Linked DNA regions of Homo sapiens: region 2 is reported to be linked to region 1. Evidence: microRNA targets listed by miRTarBase, many of them from high-throughput screens and not tested one by one. Region 1 holds a microRNA gene; the other region holds the end of a gene's coding sequence.
What was found. Region 1 holds the annotated microRNA hsa-miR-4258 (CCCCGCCACCGCCUUGG, at 2,285-2,301, opposite strand). A microRNA usually pairs through its seed, bases 2 to 8, with sites in the 3' UTR of a target mRNA and lowers its output. Matches are read on the target gene's strand: a 7mer-m8 pairs with bases 2 to 8, a 7mer-A1 pairs with bases 2 to 7 and ends in A, and an 8mer does both.

Region 2: miRTarBase lists SLC60A2 as a target of hsa-miR-4258. The part of its 3' UTR that is shown has no 7-base or 8-base seed match.

What each region holds. Positions count from the first base shown.
Region 1 is chr1:154,974,876-154,978,003 of GRCh38, reverse strand. MIR4258 (microRNA 4258) reads right to left here and starts at 2,311; the gene lies at 2,221-2,311. It overlaps CKS1B (CDC28 protein kinase regulatory subunit 1B), which reads right to left. Exons shown (of 3, transcript NM_001826.3): 2 at 1-17. RefSeq lists enhancers at 2,918-2,977, 3,078-3,128.
Region 2 is chr6:111,266,704-111,269,703 of GRCh38, reverse strand. It overlaps SLC60A2 (solute carrier family 60 member 2), which reads right to left. Exons shown (of 4, transcript NM_153369.4): 4 at 1-3,000. The coding sequence ends at 2,585. Among named protein-coding and RNA genes, the nearest start is that of SLC60A2, 8.9 kb to the right of the region's middle.

The DNA.
Region 1 (3,128 bases):
TGGGCAGCATGACATGTCTGTAACAGAAACGGGGAAGTGGGGAATTTATGTTAGTACCAGATACAGTCTCTTAGACAAATGCCTGTTTACAAGGCCAAGAAAGGAAAGAAAAACTGGTTTTTGATGTCAGAGTTTATATAATTTTATTGTGGGGTAGCAGCAGCTAGAAATACAGGCTATGTTATATAAATTCCGAGAGTATATTAAAAATACAAATTAGTGAATAATTCCAGTGAATGAGCACTTAAGTTCAAGGCACATTTTCTCCGCCTTCATGGACCTTATAGTCTTCTAGTTGATTATCTACAACATAATGGGAGCCCCACGGAGCACACAGTGTTAATAATTAGAAGGAAGGAAGAGAAGTTATTTTGTGGCGAGGAAAGGCCTTTTATGAAGTACTGTGTGGACAAGTTATTACAAAGGATGAAATGAACTATCTTGTCCTTTAAAATCTAAGCCAGGCATGGTGGCACAAACCTACAGTCCCAGCTACTTGGGAGGCTGAGGCAGGAGGGTCATTTGAACCCAGGAGTTTGAAAAAGATACAGTATGAAGTTTGAAATCTGATTAAAATACAGAAGAAATAGGCCAGGGGCGGTGGCTCATGCCTGTAATCCCAGCACTTTGGGAGGCTGAGGTGGGTGGATCACTTGAGGTCAGGAGTTGGAGACCAGCCTGACCAACAACGTGAAACCCCGTCTCTACTAAAAATACAAAAATTAGCCGGGTGTGGTGGCATGCACCTGTAATCCCAGCTATTTGGGAGGTTGAGGCAGGAGAGAATCCCTTGAATCCAGGAGGCGGAGGTTGCAGTGAGCTGAGATCTGGGCGATAGAGTGAGATTCCGTCTCAAAAAAAGAGAAAAAAAATAAGAAAAAAGAAAGGGCTGCAATGCACAATGGTTGTGCCTGTGAATAGCCACTGCACTCCAGTCTGGGCAACAAAGCAAGACCTTGTCTCTTAAAAAAAAAATTAAATCTATCCTGAATCTTATTTTCCTAACTCTGGAGGGATGTACCTTGAGACTTTCTGGGTAAATTCCGTGCTTTTCTAACCAAGGATAAGTCTCCCTTCATAGCAAAAAAATTATTACCCTGATGTGAATCAAACTAATCCACATAGTCTTCGTCATGCTCAATGAAAATGTACTAAGTTCTCCCTCTGTGCTAGTAACAGTGATTCCCCACCATTCTCCTAAAAGAAAAAATTCTAGTCCAAATATAATGAAAATAGCTCACATTCTAACACCACCCTGGCACGAAATTTGGCTTCAATACATACACCAAAAAACCCCTCTTAAACCAAAGTGCCACTGCCAAGAGTTTCATCTTCCAGGGGATGAAATGGTGATTCCTTCCCAGCTCCACAAATCTCTTATAAGCACATACAGTTTTAAGTTAGTTTAGTTCAGATGTAGAGGAAAACAGCTGAGGAAAAGAAAGTTAATTAAAGGAGGGTCTGGAGCCGTCTTGGCATAAAGATGATTATGTATTTGTCAATGCACATCGAGTTCTCTGGAAGACCCAAAGCCCTGAACTAGGCTGGGTGAAGAGACACAAGAAAAGCAAGTTTTCATTTTATGTTCTCCAACTGAGGAGACAAGATACAAACCAGGAAGTGGTCTTAATTATTACAATTAATACAGATTAGCATAATGCCAACATTTGTGGAATCCTGTGTCTTCCCTTATTCCCAATCTAGATTATGCACTTAAAATTTATCAAGCCCGAATGCCACATCCAGTGCCAGGATTCCATCATCACCATCCTTGGCAGATGGCTATCCAGTGTCTTCTAAACAATTTCAGTCAAGAGGTGCTTCCTCCCACATACCTTTTTCTTAGAGTCTCATCTCAGGCTCTGCCCTCTAGGAAGCTTTCCCCAACATTCCCTCTTCCGTTTTTCCTCTCAGTATTTTAAGTTTCATGTTCAAGGGTACATGTGCAGGTTTGTTATATAGGTAAAATCCTGACTCGGGGGTTCGGTGTACAGGTTATTTCATCACCCAGGTACTAAGCATAGTACCCGACAGTTTTTTTTTTTCCTGAACCTCTACCTCCTCCCACCCTCCTCCCTCAAGCAGGCCCCAATGTCTGTTGTTCCCCTCTTTCTGTCCCTGTGTTTTTATCTCCGACATATAAATGAAAACACGCGTAGTTTACTACTGGTTTCGTTTTCAATGGTGGTGAAAGAGACATCACGCTGAATTGGCCCTTAGGACACTCCCCCGCCCCCAAACCAAGCCCAGGGAAGAAGACCGACCGAAAGTAAGAGGTCAGCCTCCAAGGCGGTGGCGGGGCGGGGGGCGTTCTCGAAGCGTGGGATGGGGGAGCGTCCTGGAGTTAGCAAAAGTAGGGGACTGACTTTCTAGCCCCACCTCAACCCCCGCTCACAGCTAGGAAGCCGCAGCCTTCGGGTCGCCAGTTCCCTCTCCTTAGCAAGTCTTGTGTGCTCCCATCACACCCTGTAATGGCTCCTTGCATAGCGTGTGTCACCTTTCTGGTGTCTGTCGGTACCACCCACAGATTTTTAAATTTGTGAACAGCAGAGACCATGTGTTATCCTTGCACTTTAGCAGAACACCTGAAACCTGTTAAGTATTCCGTAACTGTTCCCTTTGATATTTAAAGGGCATCTATTAGACCCATATTAAGTATTTTCTCAATGCTCCTAGCCAGTTTTATTCCATTGCAGTCCCAAGCGATCCCCTTCCTTACACAAGCCAGACAACCACGCCCCTTGTCTTTTTCACGAGTTAATAAGCAATATTCAACTCTCTCAGCGCTACTCTCCTGTTAGGGACGCCAGGAAACTTCCAGCTCCGCTTTTGCTACGTTCTCCCACTGGATTCGACAAGATTACTGTGAAACAGTCTCTACAAGGCAAGTTAAGTTTGCCCGATAAAGTTCAGAGAATGATCCAGAAAGCCTCATGGGTGAGGGTGGTCAGTACCCTAACCACGCCCACCCCTCTCTCCTCTCTACTGAGAGGCGACTCCAAATTCGCAACCACTTTGTTTTACGAGCGCCTCCCACCTCCGCGCATGCGCCTTACGCCTTCCACAATATCACACCATTGCCCGTTCGCACCTCGTACGCATGCGCCAATTCTATCGCCTCAGTTCCT
Region 2 (3,000 bases), not on the chromosome of region 1:
ATCATCATCCTTCTCTCCCTGAGCTGCATCTTCTACCCTGTAACAGTAAATGCTGAAGGTGGAATTCCTATTCTAGCAAGCCTCCTAGCTGCCAAGTAACTGCTACTGCCTAGATTCCAACAACCTGAGAAAAGGCAGTAAGTGAAGCAGAAGTAATTTCCAAGTTCTAACTGAGGGAAATTTACACTATAAAAAGAGCAAAAGGGCTGGGCACAGTGGCTCATGCCTGTAATCTCAACACTTTGGGAGGCTGAGGTGGGCAGATCACTTGAGATCAGGAGTTTGAGATCAGCCTAGGTAACATGATGAAACCCCCTCTCTACTAAAAACACAAAAATTAGCTGGGCATGGTGGCGCATGCCTGTAATCCCAGCTACTCAGGAGGCCGAGGCAGAAGAATCGCTTGAACCAGGGAGGCAGAGGTTGCAGTGAGCTGAGATCACGTCATTGCACTCCAGCCTGAGTGACAGAGTGAGACACCATCCCCCACCCCTAATAAATAAATAAAAATAAAAAGAGCAAGAAGGTTTTTACCATTAACTTCTCCACCGCCATCTCCAAAGCTGTTAGGTTATTACATGAACCAAGACTGTGGCAGGCATATAAGGTGAATGGGCGGGCAGTGGTCAAGAAAGACACTGTATTTTACTTGAGACAAAACAATGGCAAATTTATAGAAATTAAGTAAGAGAAAGCAAGCCTACTCCAATCAGGTAGAAAGGAGATGTTATTCAGCAAAAAATTGGAGGAAGTAAACAAAATTTCATCAATTCTTGTCATTTTTCAAAGGATCACCTGCACCAATTCTGCCACATATATATGAAGTACCCTTTCTGATCCTTGACTCCTAGGCTACCCAGTCACCTTCTAACTGGTTTCCCAGGTATTTCAGACTCAGGAAAGAGAAACCCTGGATCGGTGACACAAGTATTCCAATCACTGGAAAAGACTATGCCTCACTGTAAATTACACTTGCAGCGTGACCTACGGTAACTACGATATGATTACCACACAGACCTGGTGAAGAGCTAATCTCGAGCAAGGCTCAGACCCAGCCTCTGTTACTGAGGTAGGCAAAGGACCTCGAAAGACCCCATCTACAGCCCTACTACTAATCTAATAACACTGAAACAGTTCTTAAAATTAGAACATAGTGTCTCCAAATTCCACTTGAACATAGAATATTAGCATATAAAAATAACTTATTTTTAAAATGTCTGTAAAGATACTATCATAATTGAATGAATTACTGTATTTCACTGAATCTAAGCCACTGATTGTAAAACACATTATTTTATATATACATATGGGAAAAAACTGTCCATTAAACTTTGTCACAATGTTAAACGATCACTGATTGTAAGACACATTCTGATTTCAGATATGTTAACAGTATGGGGGTAAAAAGTGCAACTTAGAATCAATGAAATGCAGTACTAAAAAATATATTCTTCAGGTAATTATTCAAATAAGGTATTAAACATTAAGTACATTAAATTGACATGTAATCATTTATCATTAGCACATTCTTAAAGCTATTTATCATTTTGGTTTCACTTCTCATTTGAAATGAAGAACATGCTGTCACTTGTACTAATTTCTAGCAGACATTTTGCACAAACTTTAAAACTTACAGATTCCCAATTTGGAAATCATCTCATTTTCATTTCTAGAATCACAGATCAGGAGGCGAGATAAACAAGGCCTACGTTAAGTGACAGAGTGCAGGGCTAGAAGAAGTCAAGGCTTGAAGCCCGACCCCTTGGGCCCTGTTCTGTGTTCTCTTCATTGAAATTAGAAATCAAATGAGTCATTACATTCTTTGATCCAACCCTACAGATAAGGTAAAGCAATTAATAAAAATACCTCTCCATTTCTTTTTTGAGACGGAGTCTAGATGTCGCCCAGGCTGGAGTACGGTGTGGCATGATCTCGGCTCACTGCAAGCTCCACCTCCCGGGTTCACGCCATTCTCCTGCCTCAGCCTCCCAAGTAGCTGGGACTACAGGTGCCTGCCACCACGCCTGGCTAATTTTTTGTATTTTTAGTAGAGACAGGGTTTCACTGTGTTAGCCAGGATGGTCTCGATCTCCTGACCTCGTGATCTGCCCGTCTCGGCCTCCCAAAGTGCTGGGATTACAGGCTTTAGCCACTGCACCCGGCCCATTTCTCTTTTATGAAACTATTCTCCTCAACTTTCCTGGAAAAATATTGATACCTGATAATTTGTTCAACCAATCAATTCAACTCCTACATGGTCTCATTCTGAGAATACCCCCCTTCTCAAAAACAATGCCTTCTTTGGGTGCTCTGAGGGGTGGAGACCATAAAATATTTCCTAATCAGTCACATGTCAAATGATAGCGTTATAACAAGATCCTATTGTACGTGTATGAGACCATTTGGTTATTTATGGAAGACTCTGGGAATTACAGAACATTTCAAAAATTTTTAGCATTTGCTATAATATGGACCTAAAAATTTTAATCCCCAAAGCATGGTGAAATTCTGCTAATGCTCTGCTCTGAATGGCGTCCTTAGAAGTGGCAGTTATTCAAAGATGTCAGTGAGTAATCCATCTTCTCTAAACGTTAGTCCCTTTTGTCCTGGTTTCTGGCAAGTGCTTCACATGGGCACTGCCAGTATTAAAAGGAGAAGACTCAAACACCAGTGCATTTGATGGGTATTGATTATAGACTTCAGCTGTGGGCTCCGTCAGACTACTTCTAGATGTCTCTATTATAGAATGCCTCATTGTATCATTCGTTTCAATCATTTCAAAATCCATTTCATTCCATTTTTCTGCATCCTCCTCTTCATTCTCTTCCTCATATTCATTTAGCCCGGAGCTAGAGAGCAGAGCTTTCTGGTCCTCACTCTTTCTGTCTTCTTTTCGCTGGCGATCAAGAGGTGAAGTGGCTAATTTATATAGCACAGGAAATAAAATACCAGTAGCTATTGATGCTCCCAAAGAGGTATACAGAACTACAGGCAAATCAG